Regions from separate parts of the Homo sapiens genome. Here all the other regions are reported to be linked to region 1. The links are microRNA targets in miRTarBase. Many come from high-throughput screens and were not tested one by one. Region 1 holds a microRNA gene; each other region holds the end of a gene's coding sequence. Distances are from middle to middle.

Region 1 (4,000 bases):
AGGAACATGTAATTTGTTGTGTGGTACTTAAGACTTAAACAGACATAAGGCATAGAACGACTGCAGTGTTAAGAACCATATTAACTTGTCTGACAACTACATTTTTAAAAAAAGATTATTAAACCAGCCAAATGTGACAACAGACAGCAACATAACATTATACAGCAAGAGAAGTGTATCAACATCATGGTAGATTTACACTGTAAAACCTTTTCTATTTTAAAATGATCTTCAGAAAGTCTTAATTCCTTAAGAAATGGAGTAAAGTGCTGTTTTTATAGCATAAATTGGTACTTCTTGCACTAATCTAGGAACATTCATGGAGTACCCACTGTCTGTAGAACTAGTGCCAGGAACAAAAACAAGTACAGGATACCAAGCTTTCTAATCTCACTGAGACAGGGGACACACAGCTGGTAACAGAGCTACAAAGTGCCAAATGGTGCCACCTTTTATTAGTGACATCTGAAACTAACTTGGGTCTTATGTCCAGACTTGAGTGGAGTTGAGGCTCCTTGCTAGTTTACCCCAGAACTCTTCTGGAAATCAAACGTTCCAGAGACAGGTCCAGGCTTCAACATTCTGGACCAGTTTGGCATCGAAATACCTCCAGCCTCTAACAGTTGTCCAGAGGTCTGCCCACAAGCACAGGCTATGCAAGTTAATTACGAGGACAGTCTTAAGTTGCCTTATAGTTACCTAGACCTTTCCCCTACATAATTTCCAGAAGTAGTAACAGTGAAGGAATTGAATACCTCTTCCTATGGACAGCAGGAAACTGCTATCCCTTTCCTCCTCCACAAAGGAAATAACTTCCCACTGTCTTTTAAGGAAACAGAGAAACTTCTATCAATCTATCAGCGATTGTCCTTTCATAAGCTGAAGCTGCCGGTGGCAACATGTAGCTTCTACATTTGCCTTCTCCAGAGAGCCCCTGAGAGAGACTAGGGGTCATTAGAAGGGAAATAAATATTTTATTTTGGGAAAGAGAAAATTATAACCACTTATTTGAATTTGAATAAGGTTTGTACATATCAATGTAAACCAACAAAACAATCAAGCAGAAGTCCCCAAAACTTGTCCTTTTCAATCCTTCTTCAATGAATAACACATTGAAATATTTGGTTTTACATGTTTCATTTACCATATTTAGCTAAAAGAACCATCTTTGTGTTACATGCAGTCACAGAAGACTACACGCAACTGAAAAGAAATTCAACAGGGCTGGGCGTGGTGGCTCATGCCTATAATCCCAGCACTTTGGGAAGCCAGGGCAGGTGGATTGCTTGAGCTCAGGAGTCCAAGACCAGCCTGGGCAACATGGTGAAACCCTGTCTCTCACAAAAACAGGAACATTAGCTAGGCATGGTGGCACATGTCTGTGGTCCCAGATACTCAGGAGGCTGAGGTGGGAGGATCACTGGAGTCCAGGAAGTTGAGGCTGCAGTGAGCTGAGATCACGCCACTGCACGCCAGCCTGGGTGACAGAGCAAGACCCTCAAAAAAAAGAAGAGAAATACAACAGTAAAAGGAGTTTTATGGAAAATGTAACCCAATGGAACATATACCTTTTTACTACCTTACTCAAAATTGTTACAGCCACTTTATTAGAACAGCAGTTTACCAGAATACCGATTAAAAATCTACAAAAAACTATAAAATTAAAGCAAGCAATAAACATCTAATTAATATCTAATTACCTTTCTGAAATAAGAGTTGTGATCAGTAAATTAGAGACAATCACAAAATAATGCTAAACCGCTTTAAATTTCCCTTTAGAAATCTCTTAAAATGTTGTTCAACGGGCCATGATCTGTGGTATAAGATACCAGGTATGGCTATAAAGTAACTGAGACGGATCCCACAAACGACATATGACAATCAGTCTCATTGCTTTATAATCACACCAGGTACAAACGGTTTTAGAAATCAGTTGAGGCTCCCTCTTGAAGACTCAAGCTGGAAAAGGAGTAGGGAAAGGAGTAGGGAAAGGAGTAGGGAAAGGAGTAGGAAAGGAGTAGGGAAAGGAGTAGGAAAGGAGTAGGGAAAGGAGTAGGAAAGGAGTAGGGGAAGGAGTAGGGAAGGAGTAGGGAAAGGAGTAGGGAAAGGAGTAGGGAAAGGAGTAGGGAAAGGAGTAGGGAAAGGAGTAGGGAAAGGAGTAGGGAAAGGAGTAGGAAAGGAGTAGGAAAGGAGTAGGGAAAGGAGTAGGAAAGGAGTAGGGAAAGGAGTAGGGAAAGGAGTAGGAAAGGAGTAGGAAAAGGAGTAGGAAAGGAGTAGGGAAAGGAGTAGGGAAAGGAAAGCTGAACAGGTAGCCAAGGAAACCAATCCATGTGATTCTATTCAAAGAACACTAAATAAGAACACCAACTAATTTCAACGGGAAAGCTGTTTGGGAAAAGAAGTGTGTAATTATTTCAACCATCCATTCAACAATATTTATTGAGCACATACTATGATCAGGCTCCTTTCACCTCTTAAAGAGAGTAGAAAATTACCTGCTCTTGATGCAAAAATCCACACGCCCTCAGGAGCAAAGGGGGAACCTTTTGGACTAGGAAGAGAAGCCGCTCGCGGTGGCGTCATTACACCAGCACAGAGAAGAGCCGGGCAGAGGAGCCCGACCCTGCCGATCGGGCAGGAGGACAGCAGAACGAAAGCCCGCCACCAACTTGCAAAGGACTGGAGTTTTAGGTCTTAAATCTTTTACAGAATCTGGCGAAAGTTATATAGGAGTCCCCTCCTAGGAGAAAGGGCCTTCTCCCCATACTCCACCCCTAAAGCCTGATAGGGCTCAAAGACCCTGACCTAAAGCTGCCTCAGACACTTGACTTTTAAGGATCTGAGGAGCTCTGGCCCAGTTTCACGCCAAAGGAAATGTAGGCTTCACAATAAAGGGCCGGTCAGAGGAGGCAGTGACTGAAAAGAGTGAAGAATAATTAGACTGTAACGCTGTAAATATCAAAGCACATTTGGGACATGCCCCACCACTCCCATGTCCCAGGCCCTGGGCAAACACTGCTAGTAAGTCACGGATGCGGCCACGCTCCCACGCACTTCCACGTCTGGCCGCCAGTACTAACTGTCAGAGATGGCAATCCAGTGAAAGCCCATCTGTGATCCCTGCTTCCAACTATTTTCTTGAGAAACTTCCCCCACTGTTATTCTTTAACAGGAACTTCTGTTTCCACACTGCTTGAGTCTGGCTACTTTAATAAACAATTCTATTCTTTCCACTTTCATCCTGAGAATTTTCAAACCCATAGAGCAGTTCCAATACTGTGAGAACACTCATGGACCTTTTATTTAGATTTGTCAACATTTTGTCCTTTCTATATGTATTTATTTTTGCTGAACCAATTAAGAGTAAACTGCAAACACATGACATTTTATTCTTAAATACTTCCACGGTCCCTCCTAAGAACAAGGCTAGCTACGTGGCCACAATTCATTTACTTATCCTCAAGAAATTTAACCCTGTGTTCTTTAATAGATGGTCCATTTTCAGGTATCTGTGGTGATGACTTTAATAGCTGTTTAACTTGTTTAGTTTTGTGTCCAGGATTCAATCGGGGCTGTCGGCATCATGCTTAGCTGTCATGTCTCATTAGTCTCCTTTGATCTAGAATAGTTCCTCAGTCACTTCCGGTCCATTCATCACAACACTGACCTTTTTAAAGAGTCCAATCCAGATGTTCTGACCATGCCCCTCAATCTGGATTTGACTGTTTCCTAATGATTAGATCTCCAAATTAAATATTTCTAGTAAGAATACCACAAGGTGATGGCGTGTCCCTCCTCAGCTCGTCACTTCAGGAAGTGCAGGCCGGGTTGTACCTTTATTTTTGGTGGCAAATTTTATGACTTGGTTATTTTGGTATCTGCCAGGTTTCCTCACTGTAAATAAATGTTTTCCTCTTAATTAATAAGCAATCTGTGGGCTGATACTTCCAGATTGTGTGACTAGCCAGTTCCCCAAAAACCTTTCACTCAATGCTCTCAG
Region 2 (5,354 bases), not on the chromosome of region 1:
TATGTCTTATATTTTTCAAACCATTTACTCCTCTGGTGCCAGATCTGTTAACTTTCTTTTAAAAATAAGACAAAAACCTAATGAAAACTGAAAGCCCATTGCTACCATGAAAAACTTTGCTGAAAATAAAAGGAAACTTTCTGTAATTTTGGGGGAAGGTTAAAATGAAAATCTAGTTTTCCTTATCAGGCAAGTATAGCAAGATTAATAATTTCTTTGGCAAATTTCCAAGAAAATAAGGGAATGGGAAACCTTCAATATGGAGCTTCTTTCAAGCAGTACGGTTGGGGAAGGGCAGAGAAGTATCCTCTAGGGATTGCTGTCATGCAGCTTACCTTTAGCCTTGAATTTCATACAAGGCAGAGTTCAAAGTAAGTGATTACTTGTACTAAATGTACTCACTTAGTACGTTTTGGGGACAGGCATAAAGAGCCAATGACCAAAATGGCTGAAGTGATTTGGCAGGGAATGATACTCTCCTCTGATTTGGGGTAGTAAATACACCAGGTTTCCCAGCTGAGTCACTGTAGGGATGGCTTCTTCCCAGATACTACAGGGAAGATCTGTTACCTTTGTTTATAAGACAAAAGACACTTTCAAAGGGCAGGTCTTTTCATGTAGAAGAGTCAGGTCCATAACTCGGTAGCATTTAATTTGAAAGGTTACCCACATTGAGCTCATACCAGTGTGAAACTTCCATGGCATTATCTTTTAAATCCCTAAGATTAAAACCCCACACAAATGCACTCAAAGCAACCCAATATCAGTATCCTGCAGTTTCTATGGGCCCTTTCTGCAGCCTTTACTCATGGAAGACAAGGGATCTGGGTTTGTTTAGGAAACATTTTGTGAGCATTGTCCAAGCCCTAAGTATGGTTGGCCTAAGCTTTGCTGAAGCTAAGATCAGTCTGTTTATGTTTGCTTAAAATAGGAACTTAAAGGACTAAAATGTCATCATTATTTATCCTGATTATAGCCTAATGGTATTTTATTTTCTCTACAGCAATATGACTGCTAAAAGAACCAACCCAGGACAGAGCCACAATCTTCCTCTATTTCATTGTAATTTATATATTTCACTTGTATTCATTTGTAAAACTTTGTATTAGTGTAACATACTCCCCACAGTCTACTTTTACAAACGCCTGTAAAGACTGGCATCTTCACAGGATGTCAGTGTTTAAATTTAGTAAACTTCTTTTTTGTTTGTTTATTTGTTTTTGTTTTTTTTTAAGGAATGAGGAAACAAACCACCCTCTGGGGGTAATTTACAGACTGAGTGACAGTACTCAGTATATCTGAGATAAACTCTATAATGTTTTGGATAAAAATAACATTCCAATCACTATTGTATATATGTGCATGTATTTTTTAAATTAAAGATGTCTAGTTGCTTTTTATAAGACCAAGAAGGAGAAAATCCGACAACCTGGAAAGATTTTTGTTTTCACTGCTTGTATGATGTTTCCCATTCATACACCTATAAATCTCTAACAAGAGGCCCTTTGAACTGCCTTGTGTTCTGTGAGAAACAAATATTTACTTAGAGTGGAAGGACTGATTGAGAATGTTCCAATCCAAATGAATGCATCACAACTTACAATGCTGCTCATTGTTGTGAGTACTATGAGATTCAAATTTTTCTAACATATGGAAAGCCTTTTGTCCTCCAAAGATGAGTACTAGGGATCATGTGTTTAAAAAAAGAAAGGCTACGATGACTGGGCAAGAAGAAAGATGGGAAACTGAATAAAGCAGTTGATCAGCATCATTGGAACATGGGGACGAGTGACGGCAGGAGGACCACGAGGAAATACCCTCAAAACTAACTTGTTTACAACAAAATAAAGTATTCACTACCATGTTGTTGTTGTTTAGTTTCATTATCCTTAAAAGTTCTCTTTTTTCTCCCCCCCCCCCTTTTTTTTTTCCAGTTTGCAAGTTATGTGGCCCCTATTGCTAACGGCTTCCTGTCTTTTTGTTTCTTTATCCTACTCTCTCATCCTCTTTCTCCTCTTCTTTCTCTGCTGTCTGTAAATTGCCATTGCTGTACCTGTGGGATCATCACCCCAGTTAGGCACTGGTCCTTTCTACCAGGTGCTGCAAGTATCAGCCTCCCTGGAAGGGTAACAGGCATTTTTCTCCTTACTGTACAGGGTTAGGCTCTTTCAAGTGACAGGATTCCTGGACTTATTGGGAATTTTCTATAGAAATGTTCCGTTTTTGGTGTTCATTGGTCTGGACAACAGATAAGCAAATTTATAAAGAAGCATAACCAGCTATTAGACAGCAGAGCTCCTCCTATGGGCAAGCTGCCCTGCAGTGGGCGGCTCCTGACTGAAGGTTTCAGCCTATTCTGTACCATAGTCCCTCTGGCAGGCTGGTGAAACCTACAGACACCTTCGAAGAATAATGTTCATAAATTCATAAAATGCATAGAATTATGAAGAAAACCAATACACTAGAATATTTTATGAAAATGTTTTTTTAAACATATAGTGTAGTTGTCTTGACAGCCAGCTCTGTCACGTCAACACCTGTGGATAGCAATAACGTGTGTCCTAACAGCCTTCTAAGGAGTCGGTCTAAGAACTATCCTACTTTTTTTTTTTTCACTGAGCAGAGTTAGCCAATATGCTAAGCACATTTATTATTTATTTATTTTTATTTTTATTATTTTTTATTTTCTTTAAGTTCTGGGACGGAACGTGCAGGTTTGTTACATAGGTATACACGTGCCATGGAGGTTTGCTGCACCCATCAACCCATCATCAACCACATGCATTAGGTATTTGCCCTCCCTCCCCTTGCCCCCCAGCCCCCTAACTGTCATACTTTTGAAATACAATTTCAATTAAAATGATATTTCGAGATACCTGCAGCAAATTTAATGTGATATGAAAACATATGCAAATTTTTATTGTAGATCAAAGTATGATCAGTATTACTGATGCTACTTTGGTTTGTTGCATAGTCATAATTAAAGGAAATATTAAATTTTTGTTATAAGTTAGTAAAAAATGACACTTTTTTCCCATCTAAGTTTAACACCCCACTCCCCCAGTTATTTATCCATGGGGTCTTTTGGGAATTCTTGGACACCAGATTAAAAACCCCTGCAATACAGGATCCAAGATAAAAGGCATAATAATCAGTCATAAGCATCATTTTTTCCTAAATCTATCCTCAAAGGACATAGCAATAATAATTATCAACCATTATCATAATAACAGCAACAATTTCTTGAGTCCCTTCAGTATGTCACTTATTGTAATTAGTTTTACACATACTATTCCACTGAAATCTCTCAGCAGCCCTAGAAGGTATTACTTCTCTCTATTTTATAGACTCAAAGCTCAGTGAGGTTAAGTAATCTGTCCAAGGCCACATCTTTAGCAAATGAAAAACACTGTAGCAAAAAAAAAAACAACACTGATTTAACTCCAAGTTGGTGTAACATGAACACGGTGTTTTCCCTGCTCCTCTCCTCTGCCTCATCTACCTGCTCTGCCACCAGGGCCCAGGGGCTAGAGTCTTCCTCCTATCCTACACTGGCACTCAGATACTCCACCCACCTAATGGGGACTTTGACAGGCCCCTGAGAGCCTTAGTCATCCCTATCCTAGAGCCTAAGTTTGAGTGACTCAACATTTCCCCTTGTTTGTGAATCTTTTAATAGTAGACATTGTCATCACCTGAAGGAAATAGCTTACACAAATTACCTTACACCCTCCTTAAGTTCTGTTTATAGCCTACGCTCCTGGTTTGTAATATTCTAGGCCTTTCAATTTGGCTGGAAACTCCCTCAGGGGTTGTACTAAAACAGCTCATTCTTACCTGACAACATTAAAACAATAAAAATTACTGTAGAATCTGAATCACTTGAATAGTACACGTGGCCTCTGAGTGTCAATTTACCATAGTGACCAAATTTACAAATACATTCCTACATAAAGGAAATCTCATGCACTGAAATCTCAGACAATTGATAGAATGCTACCTTTACCACAGTATGAGTTTCTTGTATGTGTGTGAGATCTTTTTCATTGTTTTCTCTGATGCTTACCCATGGTGAGAACAGGTATGGGATTTGATGCAACTTTTCAGAAAAGCCATTTGGTGATCTGTGTCTACAATATATAAAGCCTACACATCCTTTAGCCAAGTATTTTTACTTGTAGAAATTTATTTTAAGAAAATCATCAAGGATGTTCACAATAGTTCAGTTTCCAGTAATAATTATGGGAGTATTGTTTGTAACACCAGGAAAAATGGCAAGAGCCTAAATCTCTGATAACAAGGAATTGGTTTGATAAATGTAGTCAGTGGCTGTTAAATCAGGGTAAATGTATGAACCGCACAACATTACATGAAAGAGAAAGTTTCGAAAATATAGAAAAGAAGGGTTCTATGTCTTTCTCTACTAGGTATATGTATATTATAAATACCCTTTAAATATATTACTGAAAAGGAATTTCAATCAGATTCAATGTGATTTTTGTCTTGATTCATTTCGCTTATCTATACTTTCTGAAATTTCTACCATAAGCACATATTACTTTTAGAAATAAAACAAAAATGAGATGAGAAGAAAGATTCAGTCCTAAAATAATTCAGGGAGGAGCCCGCAGTCTTTAAGGGAAACTCCCCAGGTATGTAAGAAAACCATTGTTCTTGTGCTTGGACAGAGGAGTCATCCTACAGTAAATACAGGGGAATAATTATGCCTGCAATTAGGTGAAGGGATGGGCCAGGTGAGGCTGGCAGTAACCATAGGCTAAAAATATAATGGGGAGCCTATAATTTCAATTGCATGTTTGGGAAATGTTAAGTGCACAGTTTCTTCTTAGACAAGCCACCAAGTAAGATTTTTACAAATATCAACCATGTATCTGTTTTCTGTATTTTAAAACGAAATGGCATACCTTTACTTTGAACATTGGCTTTTTATCAGGGCTTTGTGTACTACAGCTTGGATTTTCCTTATTTTAATTTTCTCTGCTCACTGCAACCTCTGCCTCCTGAGTTCAAGCGAGTCTCCTGTCTCAGCCTCCCAAGTGGCTGGGATTACAGGCTTATGCCACCATGCCTGGCTAATTTTTGTATTTTTAGTAGAGACAGGGTTTCACCATGTTGGCCAGGCTGGTTTCGAACTCCTGACGTCGTGATCCTCCCACCTCAGCCTCCCAACGTGCTGGGATTACAGGTGTGAGCCACCCTACCTGGCCCTCCTTCTCTTAACATTAAATAGTTTGTGTATGCAAGTCCTGGCAAATTTAGACACATATTTTAATTATTGTAGTTAAATAAGTCTACTAGGTTTTTCTGGAGCTAGATTTCATGTTACTTCCTAG
Region 3 (5,354 bases), not on the chromosome of region 1:
GTCTCTACTAAAAATATGAAAATGAGCCGGGCATGGTGGTGGGCACCTGTAATCCCAGCTACTTTTGAGGCTGAGGGAGGAGAATCGCTTGAACCTGGGAGGCAGAGGTTGCAGTGAGCTGAGATTGTGCCACTGCACTCCAGTCTGGGCAACAGAGCGAGACTCCGTCTCCCCCAACCAAAAAAAAAAAAATAAAATAAAAGTGGTATGCATATATATGTATGCAGAAAAAACAGGAAAGAGGAACAGTTTTTTTTTCTTTTTTGCTTATTTGTCTTCTAAATTTTCTATATTCTAAGTGTTCTATAATCCTTTTATAATTAAAGAAAAAAATTTTAAGTTTTATTTCAGGACACCATTGGAATTAATACTGAATAAATTAACTAAAATGAGGCTGGGTATAGTGGCTTATGCCTATAATCCCAGCACTTTGGGAGGCCGAGGTGGGTGGATCACTTGAGGCCAGGAGTTCGAGACCAGCCTGGGTGACATAGTGAGATCTTGTCTCTGCAAAAAAAAAAATGTTTAAAATCAGCCAGGTGTGGTGGTGCCTGCCTGTAGTTTCAGATACTCGAGAGGCTAAGGTGGAAGGATTGCTTGAGTCCAGGAGTTTGAGGCTGCAGTAAGCTATGATCATGCCATTGCAGTTCAGCTTTGGGTGACAGAGCAAGACCCTGTCTCAACAAAAACACAGAAGTATGTATAATGATATATAGTCCAGGTATTATTTAACAGTAATATTGTTTATTTTAAAATAGCAATTGTTAATTCATTGTGAAATCTATTTTTTTTTTTAAGAAAAGTATCCTTCAGTGTTTTTTTTTTTTCCTTTTTAACTTAGAAATTTTGGTGAGAAGAAAGTTATTTGATCTATGTATGTGTGGGATGCAGCACTGATCAAATGTGTCCATTTCTTCTGGTGAAATGTGTGAAGCACCTCCTAGGCTCCTCTTGTACTGTTCTCACTTCAGCAGAGCCAAAGAATTATCCTCTTCCAGTTGGTTGTATTGCTATTACTAGAATTTCCATATACTCAATGTGTCAAACATATTGAGAATATTTTAAAGTACAGCAGTTATTTGGAATAGTTGAAAAGCTAATTCATATTGTCCAGTTTAAAAGAAATCATAAGATGTTTCGTGTAGAAAGCAAAATAATTGTAATTTTAGTGTTTATACTTGCTCTTTTGCTAAAAGAAAGGTCAGTTTGGTGGTGATTATAGAACTTGGTATAGAATTCTAATTAAACTTTTCCCATTGTTTTCACCTAGGAAGCCTTGGAAGATCGTTTGGAAAGGATTAATCGAGAACTGGGTTCAGTTCGCATGACGCTAAAGAAATTCCATGTTTTGCGCACCTCTGCAAATCTTTGAGATTTGTAGCCATTAAATTTTGAGACATTTTTGTTTGCACTAATGTATAATTATGCAGTCAGAAAAGGCAAACTATTTTGTACTGTTTATAAGCCTTCAAACAGTAGTTTTACAATCATGCTATTCTTACACTTGCTATTTTATACTTCAAATGGCCACATATTTTCAAGATATTTTTGTTATGCTCAGGAATCTCTTGTATATTTTACTATTTAAAAAGCATTATTTTTAAATAGTATCTGTCTCCAATTTATATCAAGAATAAGGAAATATAAACAGAGGAAGCAGCTTGTTTCTAAACAAATAGTGTTATCCTTTTACAATTAACTGCACATCAATTTTATAGACTTGTTCTACATTGTAAATACAATTCAGTTTTTAAAAAATAAAGCTTAATAGCTTCCATAATGATAGACTAGTACATGCTGAATACATAAACAATTACAGTGTACCTTGGATTTCAGTTGTGTTGAGGTTTTTAAAAAATGATAATGCAATTCGTATTTGAAACGTGTCTTAGAGTGAATATCAGAATAGTAATAATGGACTCTTGGAAAGCTTTGAAAACTACATGAATATAACTCATTTTCTTTAAACTTTATTGTCTGTAAGAGAAAAAAGAGAGATTGTAATTCTCTAATTTTATCTTTTCTAAAAAAGTTAAACAATTGGAGAGCCCTCTCTGGAGGGCTCTCAGAGTAGCTCTCTGCCCATTGTTCTGAATTAACTTGTGTCCCACCCTGGACAATAAATGGACAGATAAACCCTTTGAAATACAAGCCACCACCCCGTGAGGGATTAAGAGGGCAGCCTGGTTTTCTTAGTGTGCATGGCTTCAGCTGTCCGTCATAGTTGTCATCTGGATATGTTCACCCCTTTCCACTCCTTCACCCTGGCCAAAAGGAAAATATTTCCACTGTAGGTGCTGTAAGAACACTAGACTTTAGATCATCACAATCTACTGTATTTGTTAATGGACAGGGAGTGTGTCCGGATGGAGCCTGGTGCCTTCCCCTCGGCCTTGCAGAGGGCTCCAGCCCACTGCCTCTGTGGTAGCCGCTGGCTCTCAGAAGTAGCACGTGGGCAGGAGTCTCTCCTCTGATCCAGGAGCATTGGCAGGTTTGTGTTGGGACTGCTGGTTAAGTTGGAGCTGTGTAACTACTTAGTTTTTGGTAGCCAATCAGAACGCAGTGCCCCACATATTCCAGCTCGGTACATGTTGATAAACAGACTCATCCAAACTTTCAAAATGGATTCGTACTAAACATGCTCAGGTTTTAAATTTTGGTTTGCTTTTGAGCTTTTCCTCTTTATGTGGCTCTTAATAATAAGTAGTTAGAATGAACCAAGCCATCCCAGTTATTCCAAGCAGGCTCTCAAATGACCTTTGAGCACCCTTCACCTGGCTGGTCCCCAGGCCAGGGGTCCACAGCCCTGCTCCCTTCTCAGCAAGGAGGGTGGCCTGTCTGACAGTGCAGTTGAACCTTTGCTCCCTACTCTGCAACTTTTGAAGACTTCAGGCTAATCAAAATTACTTATAATTAGAATCAAGTGCCTTTATTCTTGTTTTTTATTTTTATTTTATTTTATTTATTTATTTTTTTAGATGGAGTTTTGCCCTTGTTGCCCAGGCTGGAGTGCAATGGCATGATCTCAGCTCACTGCAACCTCTGCCTCCCGGGTTCAAGCGATTCTCCTGCCTCAGCCTGCTGGGTAGCTGGGATTACAGGCATCTGCCACCACGCCCGGCTAATTTTGTGTGTGTGTATATGTCTATGTGTGTGTGTGTATGTATATATCTTTTTTTTTTTTTTAGTAGAGATGGTGTTTCACCATATTGGCCAGGCTGGTCTCAAACTCCTGAACTCATGTGATCCGCCTGCCTTGGCCCCTCAAAGTGCTGGGATTACAGGCATGAGCCACCACACCCGGCCTATTCTTGGTATTCTTTATTCTTGGTTTTCTAGCCTTTAGAAAAAAAAAATCTAGTCTTGGTAAAGAAAATGTTCATTTTAATCAAGCTCCAGTACAGCTTGTGTCAAGACCTAGTAAGACCACCTTTAATGTGTTCCTGGATATGACATTAAAAACTAACTTGAAAATTGTTAGGATATTTCCTTGTTCCCTACTTTTATTGTAAAATCTACTACATTCTTAAGAATTAAAAAATGCCATTTCAGAAGAGATGATAGTTTTATCTTGCCAAGGAATTATCTTCTTAGTAGCCTATATTGGCTTATTCCAAAAAAGGCGTTAACCTCCATCAAAACATCTTCTGCGCCTCTCTCTCAGCATATGCTTTGATATTTGAAGTGTGTAATAGATTGGAGCTATCAGTCACTTATTTCTAAAAAATGTATTCTTTTTTCTTCATAGCTGTGAAGAGGGATACCAAGGAAAGTTCTTTCTGCTGTCTTTCTCTTCGGTAATGCTTATCTTATGAACACTCAACTGAAAAAACACTCCACCTAAAAGCAGGAAAGATGGCAATTCTAAATAGCAGCTATTATCCCCGGGTATAAACTATTTTTGTTGTTGGCTTGGGGCTTTGCTGCAGGTATTAATAGTTTAAAAAGAAAAAAAAAAAAAAAACCCTAAGCAAATCTGCCACCTCTGGGAAGTGCCTTTTAAAATGCAAATAGAAAGTGAACTCTCCCCTGATGCCTGGATCTGCCCCCTTCCTTTCCCTTGCTAAGCCTCTGTTTGCAGGAGCTACTCCTGAGGTATGGAAATGGTCTTTGCAACTGAAGGACTTTTCCAACTGAAGCAACAGATGTAGCTAAAGTGGCCGTGCTAGGGTTGTGCAGAGCTGGGCTCAGGGGACAAGAAAGGAGAGACTTGGAGCCAGAGAGACCTGGGTCACATCCTGGCACAGGCCTGCCTTTCTCAGCTATAAGATGAAATAAGAAAACTCCTTTCATTAAGGGAGATTTTGTAAAGTGCCTGGTGCTTAGTAAGTGCTCAAGAAATATTATATTTCAGATTCATTGAGTTAAGTAGGTTTTTGAGGTAGCATCCTTTTTTTTTTTTTTTTTTTTTTTTGAGATGGAGTCTCTAGTTCTGTTGCCCAGGCTGGAGTGCAGTGGTGTGATACTGGCTCACTGCAACCTGTCTCCTGGGTTCAAGCTATTCTCCTGCCTCAGCCTCCCGTGTAGGTGGGATTACAGGTGCATACCACGCCTGGTTAATTTTTGTATTTTCGGTAGAGACGGGGTTCTCACCATGTTGGCCATCCTGGTCTTGAACTTCTGACCCCAAATGATCTGCCTGCCTTGGCCTCCCATAGTGTTGGGATTACAGGCGTGAGCCACTGCGCCCAGCCTTGAGGTAGCATACTTTCTGAAATAAAAAAGTAGATTATGTCCGAAGCAGTTGACCTAAAAACTGCCTTGGACTGACATTTGTTAGGTGGTCTAAGATGTTCTCTTCACGCTTTGCAAAAAAATGAGCTTTTTTGGAGTTTAAATTAAGCATCCCTCTGGTGTGTTTGGTTTTTTAGCCACCAAAAATTTAACAAATTTGATAACCTGTCACGTGTAAGTTCAGAAAGCACTTTGGTCTTAATTGGTGACTTGGGGGTTATTTGGTATAAATATAGGTTGTTTTTCTAAAAATTATTGCCAGTATCCTCCAAATAATTGCCCCTTCAAATGTTTCATCTAAAGGTGACAGCTTGTGGGCAGAACCATGCACAGGAAGTGCCTGCCAGTGGGTGTTAGGAGATGTAGGTGGAGTCTGTGATAGCCAACCAAAAGCTATCCCCTTCTCGCCCAGAAAAGCCACGTGCTTTGCTGGACGCTACTTGAAATCTGAACTCTGCACCTACATATGTAGTAAAATTAGACACTTTTGTCACTTTAATTTTTAGATTATCTCAAGTTTTCACTAGATTTCAATGTGCCACTTGTGCTATGAGTCTTTAAGAAGCTTTAAAAAATAAATGCACACCTGTAGCCTTTTACCATTCAGACAGGTAGATTAT
Region 4 (5,354 bases), not on the chromosome of region 1:
GTAATGTTATTAATTACAGGTTTTAGTGTATATATAGTCTTAAATAGGCTATACCACAAAATGACATATTGACTTCACTCCTTAATTCTAGAACAAAACTTTTGACGCATAAAGTTCTGTCCCCAGTGTTTATGTTGCTTAATATTTCTAGAAAAACAAAGTCCTTACACTTTTCTGAGTACTTTCATTCTTTAGGAGTCCAAACTAAAGTATCTCTTTTTGATATAAAATGGGGAAAAGCATTTTTTTCGCCAGTTGTGTTTAAGCTTTATAATGGCATAGAATTATTCTGTATGATGTCTTTACATTTGGATACACAGAGTGCCTATCAAGTTAAATATCAGAATTAAAATTACTTTGTTAAAAAAATTTTTTAGAACATAAATTCAAAGTAAACTTTTCCAGGCTAGCATATTTAACAAAGTAAGTAAGTAGAGGAGGAGGAGGATCTGGCCGGGCACTGTGGCTCAGGTCTCTAATCTCAGCACTTTGGGCGGCTGAGGCAGGCAGGCAGATCACTTGAGGTCAGGAGTTTGGGCGGCTGAGGCAGCCTAGCCAACATGTTACTTGGGAGGCTGAGGCAGGAGAATCGCTGGAACCTGGGAGGTGGAGGTTGCAGTGAGCCGAGATCGCACTACTGCACTCCAGCCTGAGCAACAGAGCAAGACTCCATCTCAAAAAATTAAAAAAAAAAAAAAAGAGGAGATCCCATTCTTTCTTGCTTACTTCTCGTAAGTAATCTTAAGGCTGCTGTATCTGCCATATAACAAAAGTGAAGAAAATCTACCCTCTTATTCTATGTGGGATGTGAAAATCTAACATATGGAAGACATTTGGGGATAATTATTAAGTCACCTAGGTTAAAATTTGTGGGCAGTGGTGCTTAAATCTAGCACATTATGAATACTCAAATTGGATAACCACTAAGTATACTGAAATTGGTTTATTTTATAAAACTTTTTATTAAAAGCTTAATTTTTTCATCCAGAATTCCTAGCATCCCAAATTGTCCTAGGCAGCTATACCCTTCTGATAGTGATGGTAAATCTTTGATAAGCCGATAAACAATGTGGACTTTCTAGAGGTATATAACAGTAATATTTCACTTCCAATTCCCAGCTCTTCTCCCATTTCTCCTACCTTCTGGACCAATGAGGACAAACAGAATTGAAGTTTAATTCCACTGCACAAGTATCTTCTCAAATCTGTGAAATCTACCCCTTTTACACTATACCATTCCACTGCTACTAGTTCAGCTCTTATTGCCTAGATTATACAGCCTTTTAACTAATCTCACTGCTTAATAAACATGTTTTCTTCTAGTCTGTCTGCTTCACTGCATTCTAAGGTATCTTTCTTAAAATGGAACTTTGATTTAAAAATCTTCCAGTAGCTTCAAGAATCAGCCTATAAAATTCTGACTTCTTAAAGACCCTTTGTGATCCAATCTAGACCATGCCTCTTTCTAGCCACCACCCCTCATCTTTCTTGATAAGAAATGAAGGTACTCCTTATTTATTTTTCACCTTAGGAGTTCTGAACTGTGAACTGAGTTCCAAGTAATGTCCCTATACCTAGAACATTCTCTGCCTCCTACTCTTCCTGGCTCCCTTATCTTTTAAGACCCATTTATGGCAATTTGAGGCCATCACTATCTTTTCCAATCTGGATTAGGTGCCCTTCCTGCTAGTACATGTCACACTGTATTGCAACAGTCCTTCCTTGTCTACTTCCTTCAGGTTGGTGGCTTGTTTTTTTTTTTTTTGAGACGGAGTCTCGCTCTTTCGCCCAGGCTGGAGTGCAGTGGCGCGATCTCTGCTCACTGCAAGCTCTGCATCCCGGGTTCACGCCATTCTCCTGCCTCAGCCTCCCGAGTAGCTGGGACTACAGGCGCGTGCCACCAAGCCCAGCTAATTTTTTGTATTTTTTAGTAGAGGCGGGGTTTCACCGTGTTAGCCAGGATGGTCTCGATCTCGTGACCTTGTGATCCACCCGCCTCGGCCTCCCAAAGTGCTGGGATTACAGGCGTGAGCCACCGCGCCTGGCCGGGTGGTGGCTTATTTATCTCTAGATCCCTAAGGTTTTAGCAAGAGACATTTAGTACTCATCTTTCTCCTAAATTGCTTGTACTTTTGTTTTTCCTGTTAGCTTTTAGATCTGTGTATTCTAGCCATTGATTCATTAGAGTTCCAGTACAGAATACTGACTGCTGCTGCCTTGTGCCATTTTACCTCCATTGAAGTGGTTAAGAAAGCCTCAGGTAAGACTCTCTATTTGTTGTCTTCTTACCTTTTCACAACTTCTAATGGGACTACAGTCTCTGAACTTTAACATTCTGCTAAACATGCATTTAAAACTTTGGCAAAAAAAAAATTAGCTGTTCAGTAATTATCTTTCTGTTAGAAGTACTTTCCAATCCTGAATGTGTATCAACAAAAAGACCAAATGGAATTTAAATACAGTTGAAATGAATCAACATTATAGTTCTGCTTTAAGAGTTCTTTGGGATTTGACCATTTCAATTTCATATGTAGAAGGTACTGGTTAAGAAGTTCTGAAGTCCTTTTTCCCTTCAACATAGTCATGTAAATAGTTTGAGAGTGATAATCTGTTTTGACATGCTAAACTTCTTGGTTATGATTTGGTTTCTTTTAAAATATCTCAAAAACAGCAACAAGTACATCAGACATATGTAAGATAGTTTCTGATGTACAACCTTCATGCTTTTCTAACTTTTTTCTATCTATCTAGGTTTGGAGTGGGACAGTATTTCAGAATGTGTAGATTGGATGGTACCTTTTGTCAATGTAGTAAAAAGTACTAGTCCAGTGAAGCTGAAGACTTTTAAGAAGATTCCTATGGAAGACAGACATAATATCCAGACACATACAAACTATTTGGCTATGCTGGTATGTTTTTTTGTGAGTTTTTTGGCTTTGCTATCTGAATCTAGTAAGTCACCAAAACTGATGGTAGGAATAGAGTACTCCTTCAGGCAGTTTCAGGGGAAAGAAAGTTCTAAGGGGCACACTGATTTCAAAATGTAGAAAAGTTAATAAAATTACTTTGAAATCAAAGCAAGATTTGTGAAGTGTCTCAAGATCAATGCCAACAGTCTAGATAAAGAGTTTAAAAAATATATAACGTTACAGAAACTTTCAGAATATGACCCTTCACACTTGCAAAGACATAAAAAGACTATTAAAATTAGGCCTAAATAATCTCAAATAAGTACCCAGAAGTCTGGTTTGACTTTGATTTATGAAATCAGTGCATGATTTCTTCCCATGTATAGGAGGAAGTAAATTACATAAACACCTTCAGAAAAGGGGGACAGTTGTCACCAGTGTGCAATGGAGGCATTATGACACCACCGAAGAGCACTGAAAAACCACCAGGAAAACACTAAAGAAGATAACTAAGCAAACAAGTTGGAATTCACCAAGATTGGGTAGAACTGGTATCACTGAACTACTAAAGTTTTACAGAAAGTAGTGCTGTGATTGATTGCCCTAGCCAATTCACAAGTTACACTGCCATTCTGATTTTAAAACTTACAATTGGCACTAAAGAATACATTTAATTATTTCCTATGTTAGCTGTTAAAGAAACAGCAGGACTTGTTTACAAAGATGTCTTCATTCCCAAGGTTACTGGATAGAAGCCAACCACAGTCTATACCATAGCAATGTTTTTCCTTTAATCCAGTGTTACTGTGTTTATCTTGATAAACTAGGAATTTTGTCACTGGAGTTTTGGACTGGATAAGTGCTACCTTAAAGGGTATACTAAGTGATACAGTACTTTGAATCTAGTTGTTAGATTCTCAAAATTCCTACACTCTTGACTAGTGCAATTTGGTTCTTGAAAATTAAATTTAAACTTGTTTACAAAGGTTTAGTTTTGTAATAAGGTGACTAATTTATCTATAGCTGCTATAGCAAGCTATTATAAAACTTGAATTTCTACAAATGGTGAAATTTAATGTTTTTTAAACTAGTTTATTTGCCTTGCCATAACACATTTTTTAACTAATAAGGCTTAGATGAACATGGTGTTCAACCTGTGCTCTAAACAGTGGGAGTACCAAAGAAATTATAAACAAGATAAATGCTGTGGCTCCTTCCTAACTGGGGCTTTCTTGACATGTAGGTTGCTTGGTAATAACCTTTTTGTATATCACAATTTGGGTGAAAAACTTAAGTACCCTTTCAAACTATTTATATGAGGAAGTCACTTTACTACTCTAAGATATCCCTAAGGAATTTTTTTTTTTAATTTAGTGTGACTAAGGCTTTATTTATGTTTGTGAAACTGTTAAGGTCCTTTCTAAATTCCTCCATTGTGAGATAAGGACAGTGTCAAAGTGATAAAGCTTAACACTTGACCTAAACTTCTATTTTCTTAAGGAAGAAGAGTATTAAATATATACTGACTCCTAGAAATCTATTTATTAAAAAAAGACATGAAAACTTGCTGTACATAGGCTAGCTATTTCTAAATATTTTAAATTAGCTTTTCTAAAAAAAAAATCCAGCCTCATAAAGTAGATTAGAAAACTAGATTGCTAGTTTATTTTGTTATCAGATATGTGAATCTCTTCTCCCTTTGAAGAAACTATACATTTATTGTTACGGTATGAAGTCTTCTGTATAGTTTGTTTTTAAACTAATATTTGTTTCAGTATTTTGTCTGAAAAGAAAACACCACTAATTGTGTACATATGTATTATATAAACTTAACCTTTTAATACTGTTTATTTTTAGCCCATTGTTTAAAAAATAAAAGTTAAAAAAATTTAACTGCTTAAAAGTAAAGTTTTGCCATTGCTTGGAGAAACTTTTTTTTCCTTCTCTGCGCTGCCAGCTGTAACACTTCTTCTGGATTGCTTGCATTCAACTCTGTCTGGCCGATGGCTTTGATCTTCCAAAACAGAAAAGTGATGTTATTAGAGGTGTGTCAAAAATTAAGTTTTGTTGGTACAAGTAATATAAAGCTACCTACGTGCTAACAACGATACAGTTTAATGATTAACTGAACCTCTTAACTGTAAAACCCAGGAGTCTTGGAAAAAAATTAACATAAAGATTAACCAGGGCCACTCTCAAGGAAAGATGGACTGCTGAGCCATAGTTTATGGAATTACTTAAGTGGCATTTTAATATATTAAGTAAATTCATGTAAATTTATTTGAAAGTATAAGTAAGCTCTACATGGCGATTTTTAGAGTTAAACTAGGGCTCCACTTGTTAATGTGCAAAAATAACTGGTGGCTCAGCACTATGGTAGCATATAGTTGCTCAACTTTTCATGATTAGAAAGAAGTGCCTCAACCAACTAAATATACACACTAG
Region 5 (5,354 bases), not on the chromosome of region 1:
AACATGGTGAAACCCTGTCTCTACTAAAAATAGAAAAATTGGCTGGGCATTGTGGTATGCACCTGCAATCCCCAGCTACTCGGGAGGCCGAGACAGGTCGCTTCAACCTAGGAGGCAGAGGTTGCAGTGAGCCAAGATTGTGCCACTGCACTCCAGCCTGAGCAACAGAGAAAAAGACTCCATCTCAAAAACAAAAAATTATGTTTGATTTGTAGTTTCTAGGAATGTTCATTGGGTTTAGTGAAGAGTATAGGCTTTGAAATCTGACAAACTTAGGTTTGAATCCCAGGTCTGTCACTTAACTAGTTTTGTGACCTCATACAAGCTAATTATTGGACCCTTAGTTTCCTAATCTGCAAAACAAGGTGATACCTATATTGGGGATACCTGTCTCTGAAAAAAAAGCTTGAGCCAGAGGCAAGAACTCTGGGAAATTGGTTTCTCTGCTGCTAGTTGTTTTTGGTATGAGTAGGTGTGTGTCAGGGTACCCAAACAGGGCCTTTATTCTGTCACCCAGGCTGGAGTGCTGCTACTTTTTTAGGGTGTGTGTGAGAGAGAGAGACAGGGTCTCAGTCTGTCGCCCAGACTGGAGTGCAGTGGCACATTCATGGCTCACTGCAGCCTCGAATTCTGGGTTCAAGCGATCCTCCTGCCTCAGCCTCCTGAGGAACCAGGACTACAGGTGCTTGCCACCATACCTGGCTAATTTTTTGCAGAGATAGGGTCTCACTTTGTTTCCCAGACTGGTCTCAAACTCCCCTGGGCTCAAGCGATCTCTGGCCTCTGCCTCCTGAAGTGCTGGGATTACAGGTATAAGTGACCATGCCCAGCCTCTCTGCTACTTTTTTTTTTTTTGAGATGGAGTCTTGCTCTGTCACCCAGGCTGAAGTGCAGTGGCGCAATCTTGGCTTGCAACCTCTGCCTCCTGGGTTCAAGTGATTCTCTTGCCTCAGCCTCCCGAGTAGCTGGGATTACAGGCACCCGCCACCACTCCCAGCTAATTTTTGTATTTTTAGTAGAGACAGGGTTTCACCATGTTGGCCAGGCTGGTCTCGAACTCCTGACCTCAAACAATCCACCTGCCTGGGCCTCCCAAAGTGCTGGGATTACAGGCGTGAGCCACCGCGCTCAGCCTCTTGTATTTCTAAGCTACTAGATGGGGTTTTAGTAACTAGTTTACAAAATAGGACAGATAGGACACAAATAACTATTTGTGACTATTGCTGCATTTATGGCCTGGGATAAGCCCTGATTTCTTTGATTAGTCCTCATTCTGTCAATGACCTCCCCTCTCTGTTCTTCAGGGTTAAAGCACGAATTGGGAGCTCTCAGCGACATCACCAGTCAGCAGCCAAAGACCTAACTCAGTCCCCTGAGGTCTCCCCAACAACCATCCAGGTGACATACCTCCCCTCCAGTCAGAAGAGTAAACGTGCCAAGCACTTCCTTGAATTGAAGAGCTTTAAGGATAACTATAACACATTGGAGAGTACTCTGTGACGGAGCTGAAGGACTCTTGCCGTAGATTAAGCCAGTCAGTTGCAATGTGCAAGACAGGCTGCTTGCCGGGCCGCCCTCGGAACATCTGGCCCAGCAGGCCCAGACTGTATCCATCCAAGTTCCCGTTGTATCCAGAGTTCTTAGAGCTTGTGTCTAAAGGGTAATTCCCCAACCCTTCCTTATGAGCATTTTTAGAACATTGGCTAAGACTATTTTCCCCCAGTAGCGCTTTTTTCTGGATTTGCATTCAGGTGTTATTCTTAATGTTTCTGTCAAAGCTTCTTAAAAATCTTCACTTGGTTTCAGCCATAGTTCACCTTCCCTGTTCCAGGTTTATTTAATTCCAAAGGTGAGAGTTGGAGTGAGATGTCTTCCATATCTATACCTTTGTGCACAGTTGAATGGGAACTGTTTGGGTTTAGGGCATCTTAGAGTTGATTGATGGAAAAAGCAGACAGGAACTGGTGGGAGGTCAAGTGGGGAAGTTGGTGAATGTGGAATAACTTACCTTTGTGCTCCACTTAAACCAGATGTGTTGCAGCTTTCCTGACATGCAAGGATCTACTTTAATTCCACACTCTCATTAATAAATTGAATAAAAGGGAATGTTTTGGCACCTGATATAATCTGCCAGGCTATGTGACAGTAGGAAGGAATGGTTTCCCCTAACAAGCCCAATGCACTGGTCTGACTTTATAAATTATTTAATAAAATGAACTATTATCAAATAAAACGTATGAATCAGTCCTTTATAGTTGTCTTTTAATAAAACAGGCATTTGATAATGTTATCTGCACATTTCTAACAGGGTATAGGGCATGAGGATTTGCCTCCAGAGAATTGGTGGGACTGTGTGCATACCCTGGACCTACGACCATACACATACTCCTTGGGACCCTAGCACAAGAAATCCTAAAATCAGGACTGTGGCCCTTGCTCATAGATGCCTGTGTCACCAACAGAAGGCTGCAGAACAAGGATTCTCTCAAGGTTTCTGGGGCAACAGGCCAGGTGGCCAATCAACTCCTAGGCCCAGGGTTATTGTTGGAGGTGTAAATGTTACTATGACTACTGAAACCTTGGTTACTGAACTAAACAGAGGAGCCTGTCAGTCTCCTCAGACTGTATCAAGCAAATCTATAGACATGTCTGTGGAAAAGATGACAAAAGTAGAAGAGGTATGCAGAGTTGGAAGGAGGGGCTGGGTTGAAGTTTGATGAAGTTTCCAGATCAATTTACTATAAGTGCATCTTTTACTGGGAAAGGCTTTTGATGTAACAAGGGTATAATGTAGTTAGTAACAGGAGTGGGAGGCTGTGTCTAGTACACAGTAGGTATTCAAATATGTGTTCTATCCAACCCCTGCGTGTTTTCTTTGATCCATTCTGAAAGTAGAGCTTTCCTCTCCCTATTTCCCCCCAGGAAATTGCTTTCTCAAAAAGGTCTATGTGGCTGGGTGCGGTGACTCACGCCTGTAATCCTATCACTTTGGGAGGCTGAGGTGGGCGGATCACCTGAGGTCAGGAGTTCGAGACTAGCCTGACCAACATGGAGAAACCCCATCTCTACTAAAAATACAAAATTAGCCCGGCATGGTGGTGCATTCCTATAATCTCAGCTACTCGGAGGCTGAGGCAGGAGAATCGCTTGAACCCGGGAGGCGGAGATTGCGGTGAGCCGAGATCACGCCACTGCACTCTGGCCTGGGCAACAAGAGCAAAACTCTGTCTCAAAAAAAAAAAAGGTCTATGTCTCTCATTAGAATAGAGGTTCTGGAGACTGAGGCAGATCAACAGAACTACCTTTTCTTGCAGAGTTTTCAAAAGGCCATGGGACTTAAGAAGACGGTCGACAGGTAATCTGCTTCTATCCCCTCCCTTTACCTTTGAGCTTGACCTTTCCACTCTGCTGTCTTCCCTGAGCCACCTCCCAACTCTGCTGCATCTCTTTAGGGGCTCATCAAGAGGAAAACAGATGCGGAAGGGGTGAGAAGCAGCCTTGTCCTCAAAGCAAATGAGATCAGCCTCTTAGTGCCTACTAGGTTAGGTGATATAGATTGGTTTTTATTGTCCCCTGCCTCATTCTCTGGAGAAAAATTGAAGCATGTTTTTATTTTCTTTTTTTATCAAGAATTCAAGTATTTGTTGCCTGGCTTTGTACTAATTATGTGGTTGGTAGTGCAGTATTTGTTGAACCAGTGAATGAGAAGATTCACAAGACTGGGCTACGTATCCTTTTCACCCTGATGAACTTTTGAAAAAACTGATGCAGCCGGGCGCGGTGGCTCACGCCTGTAATCCTAGCACTTTGGGAGGCTGAGGCAGGAGGATTGCCTGAGCTCAGGAGTTCAAGACCAGCCTAGGCAACATGGTGAAACCCTGTCTCTACTAAAATACAAAAGAAGTTAGCCAGGCATGGTAGTGTGCGCCTGTAGTCCCAGCTACTCGGGAGGCTGAGGCAGGAGAATTGCTTGAACTTAGGATGCGGAGGGTGCAGTGAGCCAAGATCGCACCACTGCACTCCAGCACTCCAGCCTGGGTGACAGAGCAAGACTCCGTCTCTACAAAAAAAAAAAAAAAAACACTGATGCAAGCCTGGCATGGTGGTTCACACCTATAATCCCAGCACCTTGGGAGGCCGAGGCAGGGGGATTGCTTGAGCCCAGGAGCTCGAGACCAGCCTGGGCAACATAGGAAAACCCTGTCTCTACCAAAAAAATTAAAATTAGCTAGGTGTGGTGGTGCATGCCTGTAGTCTCAGCCACTCAGGAGACTGAAGCAGGAGGATCAGTTGAGCTCAGGTCAAGTGATGCCACCACTGCATTCTAGCCTGGGTGAGAGAGGAAAACCCTGTCTCAAAACAAAACAAAATGAGCTGGGCACATTGGCTCATGTCTGTAATCCCAGCACTTTGGGAGGGCAAGGCAGGTGGATTGCTTGAGCTCAGGAGTTCGAGACCAGCCTGGGCAACATGGCAAGACCCCCATCTCTACCAAAAAACTTAATTTAAATAAATAAATAAGCACTGATGCCTAGTTCTTAACCCTAGGAGATTCTGATAAAAGTGGTCTGAAATGGGATAGGAGAAGCCTTTTTTTAAGGTTTCACGGGTTATATCCAGAGCTAGCAAGGATGTGAAGAAACAAGAACATATATGATTTTAATAGGAGTCTAGGTTGATACAGCCATGTTTACAAAGGCAGTTTGATAAAATCTATCAAAATTTAAATTTACATATCCATTGAACTGGCAAAAATAGGAATTTATCTTAAATATACATACTTGGAAAAGCACTAGAAGGTACATACACAAGAATGTTCATGACTATTGCTTTTATTTATTTATTTATTTATTTATTTATTGAGATGGAGTTTCGCTCTTGTTGCCCATGCTGGAGTGCAGTAGCACGATCTCAGCTCGCTGCAACCTCCGCCTCCTGGGTCTAAGCAATTCTCCTGCCTCAGCCTCCTGAGTAGTTGGGATTACAGGTGCCCGCCACCACACCTGGCTAATTTTTGTATTTTCAGTAGAGTCGGAGTTTCACCACGTTGGGGTTTCGCCATGTTGGCCAGGCTGTTCTCAAACCCCTGACCTCAAGTAATCGGCCTGCCTTGGCCTCCCAAAGTGCTGGAATTATAGGCGTGAGCCACCACGCCCGGCCTGATTACATGTTTTTTAAAAAAGAAGATGTACTTCCCAGTTTATGATAGAAACATTTTCTGAAAACATTCACAAGTAGCTGGGTGTGGTGGCTCATACTTGTAATCCCAGCACTTTGGGAGACCAAGGCAGAGGATCACTTGAGTGCAGGAGTTTGAGACCAGCCTGGGTAACAGTGAGACTCCGTCTCTACAA
Region 6 (5,354 bases), 57 Mb from region 1:
CCAGCCTCTGTCAACCAAAGTTCCACTTTCTGTCTCTATAAATTTGACTACGCTAGATACTTCATAGAAATGGAATCATACAGTATTTGCTTTTTTGTGACTGGCTTATGTCTCTGAATGTCTTCAAGGTTCATCTGTGTTGCAGCATGTGTCAGAATTTCCTTTTTATCCATTCATCCATTGCCGGACACTTGGGTTGTTTCCACCTTTTGGCTACTATGAATATATGCTATGAACATGAATATATGTATTAGTCCGTTCTCATGCTTCTATAAAGGACTGCCCGAGAGTGGGTAATTTATAAAGGAAAGAAGTTTAATTGACTTACAGTTCCACATGTCTGGGGAGGCCTCAGGAAACTTACAATCTTGGCAGAAGGGGAAGCAAACACATCCTTCTTCACATGATGGCAGGAAGGAGAGGTGCCAAGCAAAAGGGGGAAAAGCCCCTCATAAAACCATCAGATCTCACGAGCACTCACTCACTATCATAAGAACAGCAGCATGGGGGTAACTGCTCCCATGAGTCAATTACCTCCTGGCAGGTCCCTCTGACGACCTGTGGTGATTATGGGAACTAAGATTAATTCAAGATGAGATTTGGGTGGGGACACAGCCAAACCATATCATTATACAAATAGCTGTTTGAGTCCCTGCTTTCTTCTTTTAGGTATATATCCAGAAGTGGAAGTGCTGAATCACATAGCAATTCAATGCTTAATTTTTTGAAGAAGTTATACCATTTCCCACAGAGGCTGCAACCATTTCACACTTCCACCAGCAATGTACAGTTACAAGGGTTGCAATTTCTCCACCTCCTCACCAACACTTGTTATTTTCTGCTTTGATAGTAGCCATCCTCACAGGTGTGCCAGAATTCTTCTTGATGCAGCACTTCAAGCAGCCATTGTCAATCGATCAAAGTTGACAAATGAGATGAAAACCATCTGTTATTTCAAAAGTGTGATCATATTTCTCTAAACTGATTAAGAGAGCTCAACTTCTTTTCAATGGGAACTTATAACTGTAACTGTAGGATTTACCAGGTATTGATGGTCATGGTGATATTGGGGTTGTTCACATGGCTGATTGTAATGGGGGCAGTAACAAGGACACCAGGAGAAAGGACACGAGGGCTGCCAATATGCAGAATGAGTAGGCAGAGATGAGGCCTGAGAGGCACTGCATAAGGTAGCATCGAAGACAGTCCAGGCAAAACACCAAGTCCAGGAACCAGGCAGGACAAATGATGTCCCCACATCCTGACTTAAGTGGTAATGGGATTTTTTTTTTCCTTTTCCTTCCTCTGGTTTCCTTTCTCTGTCCTTTACTTCTCTATTGCCTGTGAATCCATGGTTTGAATGATTAAAGTTTTTGATATTTCCCCAAGTGCAGGGTTCCAAGCATGACTTGGAATACTATTAACACTGTGGTCCATGTGAATGACACTGCTTGGACTTGTGCAATGCACAACCTGTAGAGCAATATGGGCCAGGCATGCCTAGTGAAATCGAAAAGTAAAATGTCTATCAATATGGTAGTGGTTACACAAATTATAGAAGATCCATACAGCTTTTTTTTTTTAAAAAGAGAATAGCACTTTATATACTGATACAGAAAGATTGCCAAGATATTGTTAAATAAAAAAAAATAGAAAGCAATGGGTATTGCGTGCTACCATTTTTGTAAAAGAGGAGAAATTAAATATATGTACACTAAACATACAATATCTGCTTGTATGTAGATGAAATATTACTCAAAGTAGACACATTAAGTACAGACACATTAAGTACTCCCTTCTGTGGAACGGGAATTCGGTATTAGGAGATGAGATGGGAGACAAATTTATTTTTTATCTATAGTTTTATATATTTTTTATTAAATTTTCAACCATGGAAATGATGGAAATATGTTCTGGCTGGGCACGGTGGCTCATGCCTGTAATCCCAGCACTTTGGGAGGCCAAGGTGGTTGGATCACGAGGTCAGGAGTTCAAGACCAGCCTGGCCAAGATGGTGAAACACTGTCTCTACTAAAAATACAAAAATTAGCCAGGCGTGGTGGCATGCGCCTGTAATCCCAGCTGCCCAGGAGACTGAGGCAGAGAATGCTTGAACCCAGGAGGCAGAAGTTGCAGTGAGTTGAGATTGTGCCACTGCACTCCAGCCTGGGCAACAGAGCAAGACTCCGTCTTCAAAAAAAAAAAAAAAGTTCCATCATCTTTCCCATGTGCATTCCTGAGCTGTAGAAGGCTAGCAGCTTCTTCCCAGACTCCCTGCACCTGGGATGGAGAATAAGGTTCTACAAACTGGATGTGCGTTGAAGGGAGCTATGGAGTGGGAGGTGGGAGTGGGCGAATACCATCCTCCTGCCACTTTGGGCTGTGGTTGCTGGCAAGCAAGGCCACGGATGTTGATAGGCAATTGTGATGCAGGCCCAGTCACCAGCTTCCTGGGTGCTGCTATGAGGCCGCACCTCATAGAGAGATCGCCATTATATTTCCTGGGAGCTCCGTATCTCATGGAGATAACAGGTCCTTTTTGATTCTACTTGCTGATCCCTGGATTGCAGCTCTCATGCTGTTTACCTCAAGAGCTTCGCTCACAGCCCCCTAACTCCCTGTATTCCTGCTTACAGCACAGGCTGTAGCTCCCCAGGCAGGTCAGTGCTAGAAGTTGCTGGGGCATTCTGGAATTTGTTCTTGGACACCTACCAGGAGTGCACTCCTCTCACCCTTCCAACAGATTCTGTAAGCATTCAGTTTTCAGCATTATAGCCTTTTCTGCGTAAAAGACCTACACTGGTTTCTAGTTCCTTCAATAACCCTGACAGAATTACACATTAAAAGTTTAAATAGATATGATCCTTGTGTAGTGCATAAGTGTGATGACTGGGTTTTCCCACTCTTGTGAGGTGTGCCTCCTGCAAATCTTATGATGTCTGCATATGACTTGTTTGACATGGGAAATAAAATTTACATAAATATAAAAAGCGAAAGTCATCACTAAGAAAAAACTTAATTCTCAGAAAAGATTTCTTGGGCAGTGTACCACTATAGATACTTGGTTTTTTCAAAAAAATTCTTATTATCTTGGTAAATCATCAAATATTTAATGAACATCTACTGACTTAATAGATGAGATAATTTATTATAATAATTTATCTTATCATATTAGAAATAAACATCTATGTGAATGTGTGAGAGGTTTTGTGTGTGCACATATGTGTGTGTGTGTGTAAACAGACAGATACAAACCATGTTTCCAGTGAAATCTTAGGAGAAGACAAACTCAAATGTTTCCTTGTTCTGTTTTTATTTAACTCCAAATAGCTAATAACATAAAAACATTTTAAAAAAATCTCCAATACCCAACTATTACTTTTGGTTGACAACATTTGATTATTTAGTTCTTGCTTGTTTCCCACATGTAGTACAGAATCTATCATAATATTTTAAAAGTTTGCAGCAGGCTTAAAACCTGAATATTTAGATCCTAATCAAAAACCATGATGTAGTTATTAGTTTTGATTTTAAATACCTTGCTCCCACAGAACTTACTAAAACGAATAACCATAAATAGGCTAGCTATTAATTAGATCTCAATGAAATGCCCACATACAGCACATACATATAGGTAGTATATATGCTTTTATCCTTTACTACTCAAAGGATGATGTACAGTGGAGTTATATCATAAACACATTTAACTTACATTAACTCAACAAATGAGGTCAGTGAAAAGGAAGCCGTAAGGAAAATAACATGAAATCCTGTGGCGATCCCACCTAAAATGAATGCACACCCTTGAGTAAACCCAGGTGGGTGCTGTCCATCCGCTGGGTGGGCGCTTCACTCCTTGTCAGTTCACATCTGCCACTAGCGGGGCAAGCATCTTGCGGGCTGATTCTAGTGTTAAAAGTTATGTGCTTTTTTTTTTTTTTTTTTAACAAAATGGCCCCTAAACAAACACCAACAACTTCACTTGGTCTTCAAACAAAGAAACAGTCTTTTTTTCCAACATAGGAGGAAAAGCTACTTGTTGTGGATGTACAGGTTTCCAACATGGCACCCTTCTAAAGGGCTTTCAAGGATCATCCTAATAGCCCATTTTACCTATGTACTGACCTTGGAAGCTAACCCCTGAGTATGATGCAACTCCACTCTAATGTAAATTAAAATGCCATGATCTTAAAAATGCCATAATATTGTCAGTATAATTTAATTTCCAGTTTAGTTCCATCTTCACATTTAGCAGTGTGTGTCTGTGGCCGTCTCCTGGTGCCAGCATTTCAGAATGTACTATCACTGGCTGAGAAAATCTCACGGTGAGAAGAGTAGTGTGTCATAAGATCTGAACAAAAAAGCTACCAAAGTTGATCAGTCTCAGTATGATTCAGGATATGATTTTCAATTAGCAAATGGTGCGACTGAAGCAGAGAGTGGCTTTGTTTTGCTACACCCAGTGCTCCCAGGAATCTCCTGTGGCCTCCTTTTCATGGGTTTCTACGCTGGCAGCTACACTCTACTTCTTAAACACTTGGCCTTAGCCTGACCACCGCCCCGGTTCAGTTTCTATTTTTAAGAGCACCATTCTAATGGAAATGTCCCTGCCCTGAATTAAGCTGGGACTGTGCACTTTACCACTAGCTAGAGCTGTTATATATCATAGCGTTTAGGTTAAATTGGTAGGTATTGATTTCCTTGACTGTGACTTCGAAACTTGCTTCTGCTTCTTTTAGCCATGTAGGATTTCTACCTGGGCTGTAGATGAGGGTAAAATATCCCATGGAGGACTCCTTCAATAACCACATTTGGAAAATCTGAAAAAAAGAAAAAAAAAAAGAAAAAAAAAAGAAAAACTGCTTTTCTTATGTGAAACAAAATATAATTGCATTCTGTAGAATGGAACAAGGCAATGCTTACGGTAAACACAGGAATCTGCATCGCCAGGCATGTGCCTGGTTGAGGATGTGCTATCAGTCATGCTGCTTCAGCCTAAAGCCACTTGAGCACACCACCAGGCGCGGCAGGAATGTGCGGCCAGATTTGTAGCTTATTGATTTAAGGGATGTTCTAACAGTTAATGCTGCTAGGCCTCAGCTCTTTATCTGAATGTTTTCTCAAAAGGAAGATGGATTACACTGGCAATTCAATTTCTAACAAAATCTCAATATACTTGAAGGAATTCCAAGATTTCTACTGGGAATACCTCACTGCAGTTTTTCCATTGTGGTTTACAGTGCATTTAGTCCAAGTTGTCCTGAGTCTACTTGTTCCATTAGACTAGCTTCGAAAGAGAGCAGTAAGATGGGGGTCAGTCTTCCTAACTTAAAAGGGCAAATTTCCAACAGAAG

What was found. Region 1 holds the annotated microRNA hsa-miR-340-5p (UUAUAAAGCAAUGAGACUGAUU, at 1,880-1,901, opposite strand). A microRNA usually pairs through its seed, bases 2 to 8, with sites in the 3' UTR of a target mRNA and lowers its output. Matches are read on the target gene's strand: a 7mer-m8 pairs with bases 2 to 8, a 7mer-A1 pairs with bases 2 to 7 and ends in A, and an 8mer does both.
Region 2: the mRNA of TM4SF1 is a reported target of hsa-miR-340-5p. Seed matches in the 3' UTR shown: 7mer-A1 at 1,397-1,403.
Region 3: miRTarBase lists MPHOSPH9 as a target of hsa-miR-340-5p. Seed matches in the 3' UTR shown: 7mer-A1 at 1,458-1,464.
Region 4: miRTarBase lists INTS8 as a target of hsa-miR-340-5p. Seed matches in the 3' UTR shown: 7mer-A1 at 4,096-4,102 and 7mer-A1 at 3,949-3,955.
Region 5: miRTarBase lists LTAP1 as a target of hsa-miR-340-5p. Seed matches in the 3' UTR shown: 8mer at 2,192-2,199.
Region 6: miRTarBase lists SNX24 as a target of hsa-miR-340-5p. The part of its 3' UTR that is shown has no 7-base or 8-base seed match.

The regions. Positions count from the first base shown.
Region 1 is chr5:180,013,482-180,017,481 of GRCh38, forward strand. MIR340 (microRNA 340) reads right to left here and starts at 1,916; the gene lies at 1,822-1,916. All of the region lies in intron 2 of RNF130 (ring finger protein 130), which reads right to left.
Region 2 is chr3:149,365,530-149,370,883 of GRCh38, reverse strand. TM4SF1 (transmembrane 4 L six family member 1) reads left to right here. Exons shown (of 5, transcript NM_014220.3): 5 at 1,004-1,862. The coding sequence ends at 1,018. Among named protein-coding and RNA genes, the nearest start is that of TM4SF1, 9.4 kb to the left of the region's middle.
Region 3 is chr12:123,152,825-123,158,178 of GRCh38, reverse strand. It overlaps MPHOSPH9 (M-phase phosphoprotein 9), which reads left to right. Exons shown (of 24, transcript NM_022782.4): 24 at 1,271-3,964. The coding sequence ends at 1,372. Among named protein-coding and RNA genes, the nearest start is that of PITPNM2, 4.4 kb to the right of the region's middle.
Region 4 is chr8:94,879,687-94,885,040 of GRCh38, reverse strand. INTS8 (integrator complex subunit 8) reads right to left here. Exons shown (of 27, transcript NM_017864.4): 27 at 3,295-4,923. The coding sequence ends at 4,807. It overlaps CCNE2 (cyclin E2), which reads left to right. Exons shown (of 12, transcript NM_057749.3): 10 at 2,149-2,260; 11 at 2,752-2,909; 12 at 3,296-4,817. The coding sequence ends at 3,409. Among named protein-coding and RNA genes, the nearest start is that of CCNE2, 13 kb to the left of the region's middle.
Region 5 is chr1:154,203,599-154,208,952 of GRCh38, reverse strand. It overlaps LTAP1 (lipid transport auxiliary protein 1), which reads left to right. Exons shown (of 7, transcript NM_001098616.3): 7 at 1,305-2,233. The coding sequence ends at 1,500. CFAP141 (cilia and flagella associated protein 141) reads left to right here and starts at 2,620. Exons shown (of 4, transcript NM_001010979.3): 1 at 2,620-2,678; 2 at 3,315-3,355. The coding sequence starts at 2,646.
Region 6 is chr5:123,007,148-123,012,501 of GRCh38, reverse strand. It overlaps SNX24 (sorting nexin 24), which reads right to left. Exons shown (of 7, transcript NM_014035.4): 7 at 3,297-4,820. The coding sequence ends at 4,753. LOC124901213 (small nucleolar RNA U13) reads left to right here and starts at 2,862; the gene lies at 2,862-2,960.